4 linked regions of the Homo sapiens genome follow. The protein of the gene in region 2 purifies or fractionates together with the protein of the main gene of each other region. This does not show direct contact. Each region holds a gene or a part of one and is shown on either strand. Other genes may lie near its edges. The genes, in order: ROCK2, KCNJ2, NCAPD2 and RNPEP.

Region 1 (4,261 bases), on a different chromosome or scaffold from region 2:
AAATTACGCGTATTTTATTTATGAACTACTAGAATGGATTTTTTATTGTGGTAGCGTATACAGAATTTACCATTTTTAACCATTTTTAAGTGTACAGGTTAGTGGCAGGCATTAAATACATTCACATTGTTGTGCAGCCATCACCACTATCCGTCTCTGGAATCTTTTCATTTTTCCAAACTGAAACTGTAAATTAATGTTTAAAAGAATGTTATAAAAATTATATTTCCTGAAATACTGACGAAATAATGGCTGGTATCACTTTAAAGATCTGAAACCTTAGCATTTAGGTTGCATTTCACTATTGGTCATTGTTTTACTGCCTATGACATTTATTTTTTGGTTTTGCCATGGGAAATACATATTTTGTCTTTAACAGAAAATTTAAAGGAATATAATTTAAAGCAAACACAGCTGCGACACTACATTCAGGAGCTCAGAAAGTACCATTAAAAATAGTATATACCTAAGATGACAAAAGAAGATGAAGTACACCAGAAATGATTGTATGATGCTTTCAGTGGGCTAGGCCTAGAAGGTAAAACTCTGTAGGAAACAAAGTTTTATGAGATAACGTGTAAAGTGCTTAGCCTAGTGCTTGGTACATCACAGTGCTCATTAAATTTAGTTCACTTCTCCTGTGCACACTTAGCATGTTATTAGTTAACTGCTTTAAATTTTCTTTTCAAAGGAAAATGGTTTTATTTGCAACTATTTCTTGCTACATAATTTTGAGTGAGTAGCATTATCATTTGAATTTGTCATCAGAAAAGTGCTAGCAATCATTAGGCATAGGTAGAGCTGGATTCCAAGACTAAATCAGTGTAAAGATGACATCTTGTTTCTCTGCAAAGGCTCATGGCTTTATGTGGGTCCTTAAATTAATCTGAGAAGAGTATATCTCTTTTATGGTTGCAGATTGTGAGCCGCTTAGTATTACTTAGAGTTTTGCTTCTCTACTGCCTCTTTTTTTTTTTGGAGGCGAGTCTTCAGTAATATGCTTTTGTAGTGTTTGAAACCTTTGGGTAAATACCTATGCTTTGTTGTCAAGACCAGCTTCTCATACTGCTTACCTATTATGGTAAAAAGAACTGTGTTTCAGGCTTTGCTGAAGAGATATTTTTCTAAAGGTCTGTGCTTTTTGAGTGTTGATTTATTTTACTCTTTCAAAGAGTAAACAGTCACAATAACCTGTAGGACTCACGCTTGGGTAAACTCTTACTTAAGACTTGTGTGGATGGGCAAAGGTGATTAAAACTTTGTTTACAATTTTCAGTGGCATAAAACATAAAATAATTTGATTGATTTCATTATACTTGTAAACTATCTGACAATATTATCTCAGTGCTTAGACTCTTTCAGCATGCTGCTGGTTATTTGCCTAGTTAAAATAAAATTGTATGTGTATTTTTCCCATCATGTAATAAGTAAGAACATTATAAAGATACAATAAAAATGAAATAGAATAAAAATTAAAAATCATTTTATACATTTTTTTCTTTATGAAGAGTTTGGCATTTATAGTGTAAAATTTGTGACTAGTTTACTTTAAAACTTTCATGTTGATAGGAGATATTTAAAGAAAATGAGTTAGCTAGGGAGGTTTTAAAAAAAAGGTGATGTGTGGAACTTACTGTTGATGTGAAGCAAGTGCAGGTCCGCAATCCCTTATCCACAATTTTGATATATAAAAAACCCAGTTTTTGGTAAAATGTATTTGATGATAACATCTGACCTAATCTCACATTAGAATACTTGTGGTCTAGTCATTCCTCTTGATGTAAATAATAATGCCTTTTGCTGGAGGAATATGAATGTATTTGATTTCAGGGTGTTGCCCAGATTTTCAAGAGCATTTTTGGGAGTACACAGTATATGTACTGTGTACCTTTCTAAAATCCAAGAAATTCTGAGTTCGGAAACATTTTGGTCCCAGGGTAAGGCCAATGTAGACTAAGTAAGGAAATACGGACTTACATACACTTCAGTAGCTGTAAATAAATAGTGGATAATTATCTTGAAACCTAACTTTTTTGTTTTTTATTTCCCAAGTCTTGATCAGATAGCCCTCTTTTTCCCATTTTGAATTCTAAAAATATAGTATGCAAATATAAGTTACGAAGCGTAAAAACATATTCATGAAATCACCACACAAGTTAATAAGTGGAACACTAGCCTGTAGAAGTTACCTGTGTGCCGTCGCCGCTGCTGGATTCAGTCTTCCTGCATCCTCTCTCATCTGCTACCCTGAACATTTTATTGTTCCTTTGCTTCATTTCATAGATTACTACATTTGTGTGTATCTCTAAACAATATTGTTTAGTTTTACTTGTTTTTTTAACTTTATAAAATGTCAGCATTTTTATGTATTCTTTTATGACTTGCTTTATTTACTGAAAATGGTGTTTCTAAGATTCACTAACATTGTGGGTTATTCATATTCTCTGCTATGATAATCAGTATAGCTCCGATCTACTTAATGGATATTTACAGTTTTCTTTCTTTCTTTTTTTTTTGTTTTTTTTTTTCTGTTATGGAAAGTGTTGCTAGGAGCATTTCTGGAGCTCACGTGAATAATTCCTGTAGATTAGGGTATATATCTGGGAGTGGAATTGCTGGATTTTAAGATATACTATGTTCAGTCAACTTAATATAATGGATAGAGTTGAAAATTTTCCCCATGATGTTATTATAGAAAATTTCGAAGTATAGTAAGGGTGAAAAAATCGACAGTGAACATCCATATATTTACCGCATAATTAATATTTTGCTGTATTTGCTGTATTTTCTTTATCTGTCCATTCCTTTATCCATCTATCAATACATCTTTTATTTTTGGTTCACTTAAAGTAAATTGGAGATATTAGTATACTTCACCTTCAAACACTTCAGTATGTATTTAATTAAGAAGAGTTCAATATTTGTTTAGATTTTTTAAAGATTAAATTTGCATGCAATGAAATGCACAGATCTGAAGTGTACCGCTGGTGAGTTTTGACAAATGCACACACCTATTTAATGCAAATTCTTGTAAAAATACAGACCATTATTACCAACTCAGAAATCTCCTTCACACCTTTTCAGCTAATTTCACACACCATTTTCTTCTATTAGAGGCAGTCATTCTTCTGATTTTTTTTTTTTTTTGCAGTAAAGATTACTTTGACTTCTTCTATACTTCATAAAAATGGAATCATATAGTATATACTTTTCTGTGTCTGGCTTCTTTAATTTAGCATTGTTTCTGAGAGTTATCTGTGTTATTGTGTGTGTCAGCAGTTTATTCCTTTTTCTCATTGTTGAATTGTCTTCTGTTATATGTATAAACTGCAGTTTGCTTGGATATCTCGTGTTGATGCATACCTGGACTAGTTTTCAGTTTTTTGTTTTCAGAATGTACACTGGTCCCTTGGTGTTCTCCGGGGATTGGTTCCAGGATACTTGCCTTATAGTCTGCCTACGTACCAAAATCCGACGACGCACAGTCCTTTTTATAAAATGGCATTAGTATTTGCATGTAATCTGTGCATATCCTCCATATACTTTAAGTCATCTCTAGATTACTTACAATGCCTAATACGATACTGTATTGTTTTAGTTTGTATTTTTTAATTTTTATTTTTTTTCCAAATTATTTTTGATCCATGGTTGGATTCATGGATACAGAGTGCTGAGTGTATTATATATTTTGGCTTGATTTTTTTAAAATATGGAGACAAGATCTTGCTCTCTTGCTCAGGCTGGGATGCAGTGGTGTAGTCATAGCGCACTATAACCTTCAACTCCTGGTCTCAATGATCCTTCCAACTTAGCCCCTCTAGTAGGGACTACAGGCCTGTGCCACTGTAATTGGCTAATTTTTATTTTATTTTATTTTTGCAGAAATGGGGTCTTGCTGTGTTGTCCAGGCTGGTCTCAAACTCCTGGCCTCAAGTGATCCTCCAGCCTCAGCCCCTGAAAACGTTGGATTAGAGGCCTGAGCCACTGCACCCAGCCTACTTTGGCTCTTAATACAGTTGTTATGAAAGTTTTCATTTCTTTTGGGTAAATTAAATACCTTGTAGTGGAATTGCTAACTCATAGGGCAGATATGTGTTTACTTTTTAAGAAACTGATGGCCAGGCATGGTGGCTCATGCCTGTAATCTCAGCACTTTGGGAGGCTGAGGTGGGTGGATCATTTGAGGTCAGGAGTTCGAGACCAGCCTGATCAACATGGTGAAACCCCATCTCTACTAAAAATTAAAAGAAAAAAAAAATTA
Region 2 (4,261 bases):
GCCGCTTGCTTGACCCATCTTGACCAGTACCGTCATCTGTATAACTGTTTTGGGCCTCTGACCAACAGACCGTGTTGTAAAGTAACTATTCCAGAGAAGGAATCAGTCAGTCATATCTCCGACTCTCGCCGTAAGGGCCTGGGCTCTAGAGGTACACTTGCCTGGTTGTGAAGGTCTATGTCAGGGGGCGTGTCCGTACTAGTGCTTTCTGGAACTCCATTTTCACTGTCGTCTTCCTCTTTGCTTGTGAGGGCAACTTCATTTTCATAGCAAAATGAATTTGCATTTGAGAGGATATATTTCTTTTCTGCTAAGTCTCTGGCACTACAAAGGGGAGTGTTGGGGACTTCGTAAGTTTTGTGGAACCTGGAATAGTCCACTTTGTAGTAGTGCTTCTCTTCAAAGAGCACAGGCTCATAGCGGTGGCCCCACAGGATTTCATTTGCTAGATAAGAGCTACGGCACTGTGTCGTCATGGCAGTGGCTTCCACCATGCCTTCCAGTATGACCACGATTTCAAAGTCTGCGTTGTCAATGTCCTGTTTACTCAAATCATATAAAGGACTGTCTTCATCTATTTCATGGACTATAGTGATTGGGGACACCAGAAATATACGATCGATTCCACTGTCAAACCCAACATTGATGTCTATTTGATCCAGAGGGATATACTCCCCTTCAGAAGTAATTCTGGATTTGAGGAGCTGTGCTCGAACATGAGCTTCCACCAAGTGGCTTTTCCGAAGATTGCCCACTCGCCACATCAAACACAGCTTGCCGTCTCTCATGGCAATCACGGCATTGTGACTGAAGACAAGAGTCTCGTTTCTCTTCTTTGGCTTTGCCATCTTGGCCATGACTGCGCCAATGATGAAAGCATCGATGATGCAGCCCACGATTGACTGGAACACCACCATGAAAACAGCAATTGGGCATTCATCCGTGACACATCTGAAACCATAGCCTATGGTTGTCTGGGTCTCAATGGAGAAGAGGAAGGCAGCCGTGAAGCTGTTGACCTCGGACACACAAGCTTTGCCCTCTTTGGATGCATCCAGGTCCCCATGGAGCAGAGCTATCAACCAAAACACACAGCCAAAAAACAGCCATGACAGGACGAAAGCCAGGCAGAAGATAACCAGCATCCACCGCCAGCGAATGTCCACACACGTGGTGAAGATGTCTGCGAGGTACCGTTGCCCCTTCTCACCCACATTGATGAACTGAACATTACAGTGGCCATCTTTCTTCACAAAGCGGCTCCTGCACTGTTGTCGGGTGTGGACTTTACTCTTCCCGTTCCCAAAGCCATTTGCAACTGCCATGGTGGCCAACTTCATACCGTCTTCTTCTGAAGAGACGATGCTGTAGCGGTTGGTTCGCACACTGCCCATCGCTTCTGCTGGGGACTCCAGTGCTTCTGCTTTGGAAAACAGTCTGAGTTTTTGCAAAACGCTTTGGAGAAACAGTTTTGAATGTTCGGTGAAGACACACACACCAAAAAAATGAGGAGAGATGGGTGTCTCTGGGAGCCTTGTGGTTCTACCAAGGTCTGTCTACTGACATGCAGAGTTACTTTAATGACTCAGCTGACATCCAGAGAACATGTCCTGCAAGAAAAGAGAGACTGTGCATTACAAAATAAGCCACTCTTAAAGAATTCTACTGTCTAAGACAATATATCCTAACAAAAACACATAATCAGGTAAAGATAAGTATAATTTACATTAAATTATAAGGTTTTAAATTTCTTTGTATCCTAAGCATGCTTTGTAAAACTTTTATTTAAAAGCATAAAGTCGTTAAACATAGAAGAGTTGTCTGTGACAGTTGTTCAACCAAAATGTCAGGTCAGGTCCCCTTTCCCTTCTTTTTGGCCAGGGATCTAGAATATTCTATTGTTCAGGTCTACCTCTCCCTTCTCTTATTCTCTTCTTCTGCCTGCCCCACTTGCTAGGATCCCTGTTAAGCAGATGAAAGACTGTCTGATTCCAAGGTTTGTCGTAAAATTTTTGGAAAAAGGACATGTTTAGAAAACTTCACGTGGACGCAGCATTGATATCCACTGAGTTGCATGTGCATTACGGGAGAATATTAGAGTCCCTGATGGCAAGGTTGAAATCGGAAGACAGACTATTTTGTTTAAATGATATAACTGAGCAGACCGGATAGGCTGACGAAATGCTAGAGGAAGAAAGTCAGATTCCCACCTACAAATAGAATAGTGAAGTGGATTTTGGAGTAGGCTTGACTGAGTGTGTATCCTGAAAATAGAGGGAACTAGTGGACAAAACCTCCTACGATGGTGAATACTGCCCCTATTGCTTATAATAATCTGAAATGGATCCCAGTTTCTGGATACTGTTTGGGCTTGCTTCATCACTTCTCACACTTTAAGCAACCACTATGCAGAAATGCCTGCTAAGTCTCTATTAGTACAGGTAATTCTGGCTTGAAGACTCTGAAGATGCAGGTTTGCTCTGGGGGATAGAGAGCAATTCTGTTGCCTAGCAATAAGAGCCCTGAAATTCTCCTGAGATGGGGCTGTCATGTGTAATGACAGGCTAGGAAGTAAGCACCGTTGTGCCAAAGGACCAGGTCTTTAGCGGATTGAGATAAGGCAGGAACTCATTTCATGTGAGTCCAGTGCTGTGTTCTCTCAGACAGAGACAACTGTGTAAGGACAGATCATAAATGCCAGTCCGCTTACTTTCACTTCCAGCGCTGTTATTTGGTATAGGTTCCTATGGAGAAGGCACTCACCTTTACTTAATATGTGCAAATAGTAGTTCTCAGTTTTCTCCTATTGCCTCAGTCTTCCCTAGCTAAGAACTATCTATGTACTTCAACTTTCCATCTTCACTCCTAAGAAACTATTTCCCTTGACTAACTAACAAAAAGCTAAGAGAAAGTCTAAGGTGTTTTCTTTACCAAATGTGTAATAACAAAACTAATAAGAGTTAGAACTGAAAAATAAAGCCCATCTTCAACTTTTCATACAACCAAATCCTTCTGCTATATTAAAGGGGGGCAATGAATAACTCATGAAAAGAGTCAGAAATTTGTTGATGCCTGATAATGAAGACTCCACTTTTTCCTTCTCCTCTAAATCCATTAAGATTAAACAGTTAATAGAACCGATATCAGCCAAGCCAGCCGCAAACAAATAAAGCAATCCATTTATGTTGTTTTTGTGCATTCCCTTAAGAAGAGGCAAGGTGCATTGCCTTTGAAAATGCCTTGTTACTGTCTTTTGACTTCTTCTTTATCCAAGTTATTATGCAAGAATGTGCCCCAACACATTTTTCCTGAGATTAGTCATCTTTGAAAATTGCAATGTGTGTTACATTTTGGCAGCTTTTGACACCTAAATGATGCTCAGTTTGAAAGTGCCTTTGAATTACTTTATAAAAAGAAGTTACTGTGCTTTCCTAACCTTCCACCTGCTTCAATGTTTTGTCTGCTTCCCTGTGAAGTTTGCACTTGGACCAAAGAAACAAGAATCCTGCCCCTCGAAGTTCTAGATCCTGTACATGGACAGCATTTTTTAAGCAATTATTTCATCTTAGTTTTCTCACATTACTAAACAGACAGAGACAGCAACAACACCAAACGCAGGTATACGTTTCAAAAAAAGGAGAAGAACTTCATTCAATGAATGCTTTGTATTTTTGAGTTCTGATTGACTTCAGAACTTTGTATTATAAGCTGACACCAAGAAATTCCCTTTTCATGATTCAAAACAATCCTTCCATGTGAGTTACCATTAGGGGCCATGAGTAGACAGTCTCAAATTTCTTCTGACTTATTTCTGTACTCCTTCCAGATTAAAACATAACAACCATATGAAATCTAAAGACTGAATTATGACTTTCCAAAAATCTTGACCCCAGGACATTTGTTTGAATTCCACAAATCACACAATACCAGCTTCCTATGAATAGCTTTCCACATTTAGAATCTTGAAAGTAGCCTGTATTGAGAGACTATTATTGTCTTATTTCCATTGCTAATAACAGAATTTGTTCCACATGTGGAGCATCATTTAGAAATTTTACCATTTCTTCCTGGAAAGAGAAAAAGAGGAGTTTTGGGCTTTTTTTTTTTTTTTTTTTTTTTTTGGCAAAAAGAAAACTTTTGCCACTTTAAATAGATATGCCCCCAAACAGATTTATGTGTGTATGCAGGTGCACACACATATATGTATGCAGACTTTTTGTGGAGCTGATTACATAGCTAAAGTCTAGAACCTGTCAAGGTT
Region 3 (4,261 bases), on a different chromosome or scaffold from region 2:
GGAATCAATTATCCCATGCTCTGCCACTCCAGAAGCAGTCAGAAAGCTGTCTAGAGTTGAAAGCTGGAGTGGGGGAAAGAGGTGAAGCTTCTAACCAGAAGTGTCAGTCCCACTGGGGTGACTCTTAGCCAGGGGCCTGTACAGGTCAAGTATCAAGCAGATGTTCGCGGTGATGCCAAAGCCTAGGGGAAGAGCCCTGGTGATTCTCACACTGACTCTCAACAGACTCCGGGGCTCCTGGGAACTGCCACCACGTTGTGAGGGGTCTCTTACCGAGCATACAGATGAGGAGTCCAGGGGTCCACCAGATTGGGAAAGCGGATGGCCAGATCCCCAGTGGCAACCATGAGGTTAGACCGGACAATGGGAAGTGGAGACTTTTCCAGCATGGTGAACAGAAGACGAAGCTGGGAGTCGCAGAAAGTGGCACTAAGAGCAAGAAGAGGATCATTAGGGAAGCCATTTCATCCCCATCTTCCTTGAGAAGGGGGTACCAACCCCACGGCCTACCTGATCATGCAGAACTTGCCAAGGGCAAGTGAAGCAGCTGCAGAGAGGTCTGGGTTGCTATAGAGGCCTGGGTTGTTACAGACTTTAAGCAAGAGTGGAACAAAGGCAGCCAGTGTCTGTTTGCCTGTTGGAAGAGTAACTGCAGGTTTGGGACAGGTTATCTTAATTGGGAAGAAACTGCTGAGTGCAGCCATTTTTCTTACCATCCAACAGTTCCATCTCGCAGATGCCACGGATTAGTTCTGCCTCTGTGTCATCTGCTGTTGCCCCAACCAGCCCCAGCTCCTCCTCCATGGTGGTCTCAGAGCTCGTATTCTAAAGGGAATGAAATTGGGGATCATGGATAAGCAGAGACAACATTTTTGATTCCAGCCCATACTTTGTTTTGCATGAACAAAGTGAGGAAGGGCAAATTCTACAAAAACATTTAGAGAATTGTCAAATGTGTCTGTAAAGAGAAAGGATTCCTGAATTAAGCAGGGGAACAATGAGGTCCCCATTTGTTTTAAGTTGCCAAAGCGTGTTTCTGCACCTCTTCCTCATGGAAGACATCGTTTCCTATATATGGTAAACAGATGGATCACGCCAGACAATGGTTCAAAGTCACAGAGGTCAGACTTTTCTCCAGCGCTGCAAGGCTCTGTGTCTTATTTGTCTGCAAGACATCATTGCCTCTAGTGGAGGGAACACAGGGCCCCATCCGGGGCCAGGCCAGCAATGGAAGCTGATGGAAAAGGCCGGCGGGTACGTGCGTGTTCTAACAAACCCTGCCTCAGACACAAAGCCTCTGTTTTATGCTGAGGTCTCTAACTCCACACTCTGCATTTACCTAAATCTTTCCTTCCTGGGTGATCACTGACAGTTTCGTCATTGTTCACACGAACCTTTCCTACGGTAGTAGCCACAGAGAGGCAGAAACTCTTCGCTTCATGTAATAGCAGAGGAGCAGAGATTGCCGGAAGGGGATCAGCTCAGTTCTGAGCTGAGGTATGAAATAAATCTGGGAAGTGCTGAGGACATTCACACACCTTCTCCTTGGGATCTTTGGTCTTGTGCTCCTGTTCTTCCCGGAGAACTCGGCGCCGGCAGAGCTCTCCACTCACTGCCTGCTCCAAGTGGACCAGCTGCTGCAGAGCCACATCCCCAGCCAGGGACAGCAGGTTCATCAACAGGAAAGTGGGGAGCATTGCGGGGGACTCCTCTGGAGGAGAGGGAGAGGGAAGGTGGGGCAAAGAGACATTTTTAAGTCCCATCAAACCTGAATCCGATTTTTACTGATCTTCCCCTTGCTCACGTGCTATTCAAACTAGTGAAGTAGTAAGAGTTGGGGGTGGGAACTGGCCCAACTTCAACTTAGACAAAAACGACACAGTGTACACTAAGGGTTGTTGCAGATAGTGGTGGTGGCAGTGGCTCCTGGCCCTGCAGGGAGAACAGAAGCTGGCTGCCGCAGTGGGTCAACCCCTGCCCACTTACTCGGGTCCTCCTGACTGGTTCTCTTCTCTTCTAGCTTCTCCAGGGCCTGTTTTGCACAGCCCTGCAATATCTGGGCACAGATCACTTCGGGGCCCTCTGCCAGTTGGTAAATGAGGGTCACTGCCACCTCTTTGAATGGGATCCAGAGTGGGTCTGGGTGGACAAAGCCTGCAGAGGAGGAGGGAGAAGTTGTTTACTGCAACAAAGGGCCCAATTCTGCCCAAGGCCTTCCCTGAGAGCTCACCTTTTGTGACTGTCTCCCGCAGTCGCTCAAACAACCTGTGTTCCTGAGGCAGCCGGAAGGGGGGGTGACGTTTGCCCAGAGAAGGCTGTGGAGAGCAAGACAACGTGGGTGTGTGTACAGGGTGGACACGAGAATCTCCACTCTCCTTAGTTTGGAACCACCCCCACATACCTTTCTCCTGTCCGAGATGTTGGCAATGGCATGGCACACCTGCTGGGCCAGCCTGTAGTCCTGTGGAAACTTCTCATCCAGCCCTATGCTCACCAGTGTGTCTAAATTGCTTCCCACAATTTCTGGCTTTCCTCTAGGGGAAGGAAGCCACAGAGTTAAAGGCAGTCATGGATTGGACTCATCGGGGGAGAAAGGGCCAATAGGGGTAGGTACCAGCACCTCATGTGGTGTCTAGAGCCGTGGAGCACTATAGCGTGGCTCTGCCGCAGGGCCAGCCTCTTGGGTCCTGTTGCTTTACTGAATCCCACTACTACTAGGCAGGAGGGCTGGTCCTCTCACTATTTGCTTTTCCATTTAGGTGGCGTTATAACTCACAGCAGAGCTCAGTTGGGCCTCACTGTGACAATGTCACTGAAGGAAAAGGAGCCCTCTCAGAACCTTCCTTTGCTCTCCCACCCCATTGCCTGCTAGATTTGAGCCTCACCGTGCCATCATGCCAAGAAGCATGACAGAGGAACAGCGCTCCAGAGGACAGCAGGCGACCTTCTCGGTGGCCCGCTCCCACAGCAGCTGGGTCACTGCTGGTTTCAACTCATCCTTCTGCACAAACTCACAGAGCTAAAGAGAAAAGAAAAAGGGCTCAAGCCAAAAATGAACAATTCCTTGATCTTTGGTCTGCTTTTCTGAAGATGATATTGCGAACCTGAAGTAGACAAAAGTAATACTTAGGAAGAGAAAAAGAAAAGAGGAGGTTCAAAATGTACAGCAGGGTCTTGAGAGGCTTTCCATTCTCTACTTTTCTACTCTCATGCCTTCAAAACTATTTTATTCAAGTGACATATCGAAACTGACCTTTTGAGTTCCACGTGGGTCCATAGTTCTAAGTCTGGAGATTTCTAACAGGTTTTCTTGCCGTTACCACAAACTCAACATGTCCAACATGGAAGCCATCATCCTTCCTTGCCTTTTCATTTTGCCAGTGGTATCAACACTCTATCAGTAATATGTGCTTAAAATTTCGGTCATCTAATTTTTTTACAAATCAGTCACTATTTTTCCTTTAAAAATTTGTCTTCCATTAAGCCCATTCTGCAGTGATTTCTCCAATCCTCAAGTCCAGCCCCTCGTTACTGCCCACTGCAGCAGCCTCCACGGGCCTTCCTTCCCATGGGTTGGTCTCCTCAGCCTCTGCTTCCCCACGTCCCTTCTGTTGCACCCCAGTTTGCAGGTGCTCTCCCCTGCCTCTTGTAGGGCTTTTGCCGGTAACTGACCTATGACATCATGGCCAATCACCACCACCAGGCTCTTTTCTTTTCCCCAGTGAGGAGAAAAATGTGGCTGGCAGGAGCACGCTTCCCAGCGCCACCTCCACTCTCTGTGCCCGCAATGCAAATGCTACAAAGCAGAATGTCTCACTAAAATGCTGGGTGCCTGGCTAACACAGTTAAAGTCCTAGACTCCTGAAGTCATTCAGGGACTTCCACAGTTTAGTTCCAACCTACATTCACAACTTTATTATCTTTTCCAGATTTTTTTTTTTTTTTTTTTTTTTGAGACAGAGTCTCCCTCTGTCGCCCAGGCTGGAGTGCAGTGGCGCAATCTCGGCTCACTGCTACCTCCACCTCCTGGGTTCAAGCAACTGTCCTGCCTCAGCCTCCCAAGTAGCTGGGACTACAGGTGCCCACCACCACACCTGGCTAATTTTTTTGTATTTTTAGTAAAGGTGGGGTTTCGCCATGTTGACCAGGCTGGTCTCGAACTCCTGACCTCAGACCTCAGGTAATCTGCTGCCTTGGCCTCCCAAAGTGCTGGGATTACAGACGTGAGCCATCGCGCCTGGTCTTTTCCAGATAATTTGAA
Region 4 (4,261 bases), on a different chromosome or scaffold from region 2:
AACAGCTTAAAGGGAGTGAGATGGAAAGGTAAATAAGAGGACTGTTGAACAACCTTGAAAGCACACCTGCAGTTGAAGACTGTACATCTGTTACATTTTTCTGGAAAACCCCACACATGTCTATTTCAACTTTCCTTTAATTCCAACTTTTCACGAAGAATTGAGAAAGGTGTAGTGGTTATTACTGTGTAGTTTCACTATTTTCTACATCTCCCAAATACCCACTTATAGAAGTAGAGAAAAGGAATTGTATAACAAGGGACTGGGACATTATAGCAGCGGGAAGTGGGCAAGGGGCTTTGGGGTGTTGGTAAGAGGTAACCAACCACACACTTGGGCCAGGGAGGGAAGCCCAGTCAGGAGGGTCTTGACTGCCCAGGAGAAATGAGTGGCTTGCCGGAAGGGAGGCTGCCATGAGCTCAAGGAGGAGACATGGTGGAATATAGTGGGAGAGAGGCCGTCAGAGAGCTGGAAGGTTAGCAGAGTCAGGATGAATGAGGACAAGGGGCTCAAGGGCCTTAAAAGTTCAGATATGGTACAGTTCATGACAATGACGATGTCTAGGCTCTAGACTCCAGAGCATGGGTGTGAATATGGGTGGCTGACAGAGTGGAGAAGGCTCCCTGAGTAGAGGTCAAGAAACCCTGAAGGTTGGTGTTGTGGCTCATGCCTGCAATCCCAACACTTTGGGAGGCCGAGGTGGGAGGATCTCTTGAGCCCAGGAGTTCAAGATCAGCCTGGACAACATAGCAAGACCTTGCTCCTGCAGAAAATAAATAAAATTAACTGGGCATGGTGACAGAGTAGCTGTGGTCCCAGCTACTCTGGAGACTGAAGTGGGAGGACTGCTTGAGCCTGGTAGCTTGAGGTTCAATGGGCTGTTATTGTGCCACTGCATTCCAGCCTGGGCAAGAGAGCGAGGCAAGAAAAGAAAGAAAGAGGGAGGGAGGGAGGGAGGGAGAAAGGCACAAGAAACCCTGCAGCCACCCTCAACCCTGGGTGTTAGGAGAGAAAAGTCGCCAAAGATGATGTGACAGGAAACCAGACAGAAAAAGATCATGGGACGGCAGTCAGTATCTTCAAGGAATTACTTTGTGAATTGTTCTACCACCACCTTGGATGTCAAAATTACCACAGTCCTTCAGCCCAGTGGACTTCAGCTTGTTACAACTAGAAGGTTTAAGACAGTCATCCAAGATACCTCCACCAGGACACACATTTCTGTCAAAATAAATCAGGATGCTCTCAGTCAAGCTGCAATCTCACTACCTGTAGTATATTGCAAAGAGCACTGGATTTGCAATGGAAATACCTGAATTTTAATTCCAGTTTTGCCAACTAGTGGTCCTGCACAAGCCACTCACCACAGCCTTGGTTTGCTTATTTTTAAAATGTAGAAAGTATCATCCTCATGGAGTCTGTGTAAGGATTAGAAGAGATTATACATAAAAGGGCCTACTGGGATATACCCATAATTCCCCTCTGCCCAGGATTTTCCTCTTGCAGTAACAGGGACTGGGATAGGTGGCATACCTTGCCAGAAGACCCTCCGATTTAATAAACCCCCACGGCCCGGCGTGGTGGCTCATGCCTGTAATCGAGCACTTTGGGAGGCCGAGGTGGATGGATCACGAGGTCAGGAGTTCAAGACTAGCCTGGCCAACATAGTGAAACCCTGTCTCTATTAAAAATATGAAAATTAGCCAGAAATGGTGGCACACACCTGTAGTCCCAGCTACTTGGGAGGCTGAGGCAGGAGAATCACTTGAACCCAGGAGGCGGAGGTTGTGGTGAGCCAAGATCGCGCCACTGCACTCCAGCCTGGGCAACAGAGCAAGACGCCATCTCAAAAATAATAAATAAATAACCCCCCACAAGACCCTACGATGTGACCCAGGAGGCAAGAACTGTCCATTTAATCACGGAAGGAATAAGGCATTACCACCAGTTAAGTGGATTCTGTCACCTAGTTCGATATACCATGTTGTCATTTTATTACAGGCAGTATAAAAAGAAATCATTATCACTCAGTATCTTTAGAATCTATTGTTCTCTCATTTCCCATTAATAGTTCATACTCTTACAAGTAGAACCTTAGTAAGGGTATTCTTGGAAACGACGTTCCTTTACTTATCTACTTGCTTGTCTATTGCAAAGATGACATCCTTTTGGTTATTTCCCGCCCTGCCTATTAGGAAGACAGCCCTTCGTAAGAGGAGGGCACTTTGTCTTTCCAGACTGGTATTGTTTTGAATGTGTGCGCTGGGAGCAGATGCCAATGGAATCCCATTTATTATTCCAACTGATAACCAGAAACTAAGACTCATGATACCAGCAGTGCCACTGAGCCCAGTTATGAAGTCTGAGGCTCGTAACTAATGTTGTCAAGGACACCACTGCCTCTAGGAACTGGGAGCAGGGCCAGAGATAAAGAACAGCAACAGTGCCAGGAAAAGGTCACGGCTTCACCGTCCAGCCTGTGATGCTCCCACATTGGGACTAAGCTATGGTGGAGGTAATATGAGAGCCAGGAAAAACCTATACTCCTGGTCAAACCTCTTTTATCAGGAAACCTTACAAAATCCCTTTTTATCTTCACAAGATCCATGTAACTTCACGGAGGCATTGCTCTCACCGTAGGCTTAGACTCATGCATCTGCTGCAGATAGGAAGGAGAGTCCACTTCCCTCTTCGAGGGAAATGATACCAAAGTTGTTATTTCCAGGAACTACGTGCAAAAGAAAATGGGGAAGATTTGGTACAAAGATAGGAAAGTGGATATAGCTGCTAGAAGGGCATTTAGAACTTAAAGATATTAATAAAGATCCATTTCCCAGGCCGGGCATGATGGCTCATGCCTGTAATCCCAGCACTTTGGGAGGCCAAGGCGGGTGAATCACCTGAGGTCAGGAGTTCAAGAGCAGCCTGGCCAACATGGTGAAACCCCGTCTCTACGAAAAATACAAAAATTAGCCGAGCGTGGTGGGGCATGCCTGCAGTCCCAGTTACTTGGGAGGCTGGGGCAGGAGAATCGCTTGAACCCAGGAGGCAGAGGTTGCAGTGAGCCAAGATCGCACCATTGCACTCCAGTCCAGCCTGGGCAACACAGCAAGACTCCATCTCAAAAAAAAAAAAAAATCCATTTCCCAAAACTGCAGCCTAAATTCCAACATCCCTCTGTAAGGCAGCCCAGGACAGCGCTACTGCTAGCAGGGATGATGATCTCATTCCAGGCAGCAGGATTAGAACTGGAGAGAGGGAGTGAGAAAGGCAGGGAGAAAAAGAGCACTTCCTCCAGCTGTGCTCATGCTGCATGAGCTGCAGAAAGGCTCTGGACTCAGACAGAGGATCCAAGACTGCCCAAGAACCCCCCCAGCAGGTCCACTGGTCAGAGTCCTCCTCACCTCTGAGGCCAATCCAACCTTGCCTGTGGGGTCTTTGTCTCCTACCTGGGTCCAACTTCAGCCGAAACCAGATCTCCGATGGCCAAAGCTATCAGATAGGAGGGGATGGGCTGACACATCTGGAAGAAGAACTTATTTGGACCTCTCTTCTCCCAGGTGCTAGCACTCATCACAGCTGTGAAGCCATCTGGGACCTGACAACAGAGAAAGCTTAGGAGATTTTACCTGGAGAGAGTTTCCTTTTGATTAGTTTGAATAAGAGCATGACCGGCCACCTGTGTGTGATGATAATGGCCTGGAGTCTATCTTGGAGAACACAAAGGTTTCAAGAAACTAAATCTGTGCTCAACTGATGGGATTTAGAGGAAGGCTACATACAACTTCAGTAGGTGGAAGAATTTAAAAGTAAGCAATTTTTCAGAAGTACCACTGAATGGATATAATAATTTACCACTGAAACGTGACCTGATTGATAGATCTGAAATCATTTCTTCATCCCAAGGGCAGGTGCACCTAACCTTAGTCTCCTTACCTCAATAAGAGCTGAATACTTGTATTTAACAGCAGGCGTGTCGAAGCAAGGGAAGAAGGCCCGGTTTAGGACAGCCTGGCCCTGGGTGTACACGAAGGGCTTCTTCTTTCCTGCTGTCTGCTCGGGAGCCAACCAGCAAACCTAAGCGAAAAGAAGAACATTTCAGAACTGACATCTCCCACACGAGCTCAGTCTGGCCAGAGAAGTGAGCTGGCTGGAATGAGAGAATTTTAGGTAATCCTTAAAACCTTTCCGCCAGCCAGTCTGGTTTGAACTAGAAAGCTCTCTCCTCTGTGTATTTAGTTCATCCTGGAATCCATGCCAA

What was found.
Region 1: the proteins of KCNJ2 (region 2) and ROCK2 purify together in Homo sapiens (affinity purification with mass spectrometry, with the first as the bait; one large-scale study listed by BioGRID). This does not show direct contact.
Region 3: the proteins of KCNJ2 (region 2) and NCAPD2 purify together in Homo sapiens (affinity purification with mass spectrometry, with the first as the bait; one large-scale study listed by BioGRID). This does not show direct contact.
Region 4: the proteins of KCNJ2 (region 2) and RNPEP purify together in Homo sapiens (affinity purification with mass spectrometry, with the first as the bait; one large-scale study listed by BioGRID). This does not show direct contact.

The regions. Positions count from the first base shown.
Region 1 is NC_000002.12:11,337,798-11,342,058, reverse strand, and holds part of ROCK2 (rho-associated protein kinase 2), read left to right. Parts: intron 1-4,261. UniProt on the Homo sapiens protein: Protein kinase which is a key regulator of actin cytoskeleton and cell polarity.
Region 2 is NC_000017.11:70,172,173-70,176,433, reverse strand, and holds part of KCNJ2 (inward rectifier potassium channel 2), read right to left. Parts: intron 1,611-4,261; 5' UTR 1,395-1,610; coding exon 111-1,394; 3' UTR 1-110.
Region 3 is NC_000012.12:6,524,341-6,528,601, reverse strand, and holds part of NCAPD2 (condensin complex subunit 1), read right to left. Parts: intron 3,020-4,261; coding exon 2,886-3,019; intron 2,535-2,885; coding exon 2,402-2,534; intron 2,316-2,401; coding exon 2,231-2,315; intron 2,155-2,230; coding exon 1,987-2,154; intron 1,712-1,986; coding exon 1,539-1,711; intron 826-1,538; coding exon 714-825; intron 635-713; coding exon 511-634; intron 430-510; coding exon 274-429; intron 1-273. UniProt on the Homo sapiens protein: Regulatory subunit of the condensin complex, a complex required for conversion of interphase chromatin into mitotic-like condense chromosomes.
Region 4 is NC_000001.11:201,988,720-201,992,980, reverse strand, and holds part of RNPEP (aminopeptidase B), read right to left. Parts: intron 4,078-4,261; coding exon 3,937-4,077; intron 3,599-3,936; coding exon 3,450-3,598; intron 1-3,449. UniProt on the Homo sapiens protein: Exopeptidase which selectively removes arginine and/or lysine residues from the N-terminus of several peptide substrates including Arg(0)-Leu-enkephalin, Arg(0)-Met-enkephalin and Arg(-1)-Lys(0)-somatostatin-14.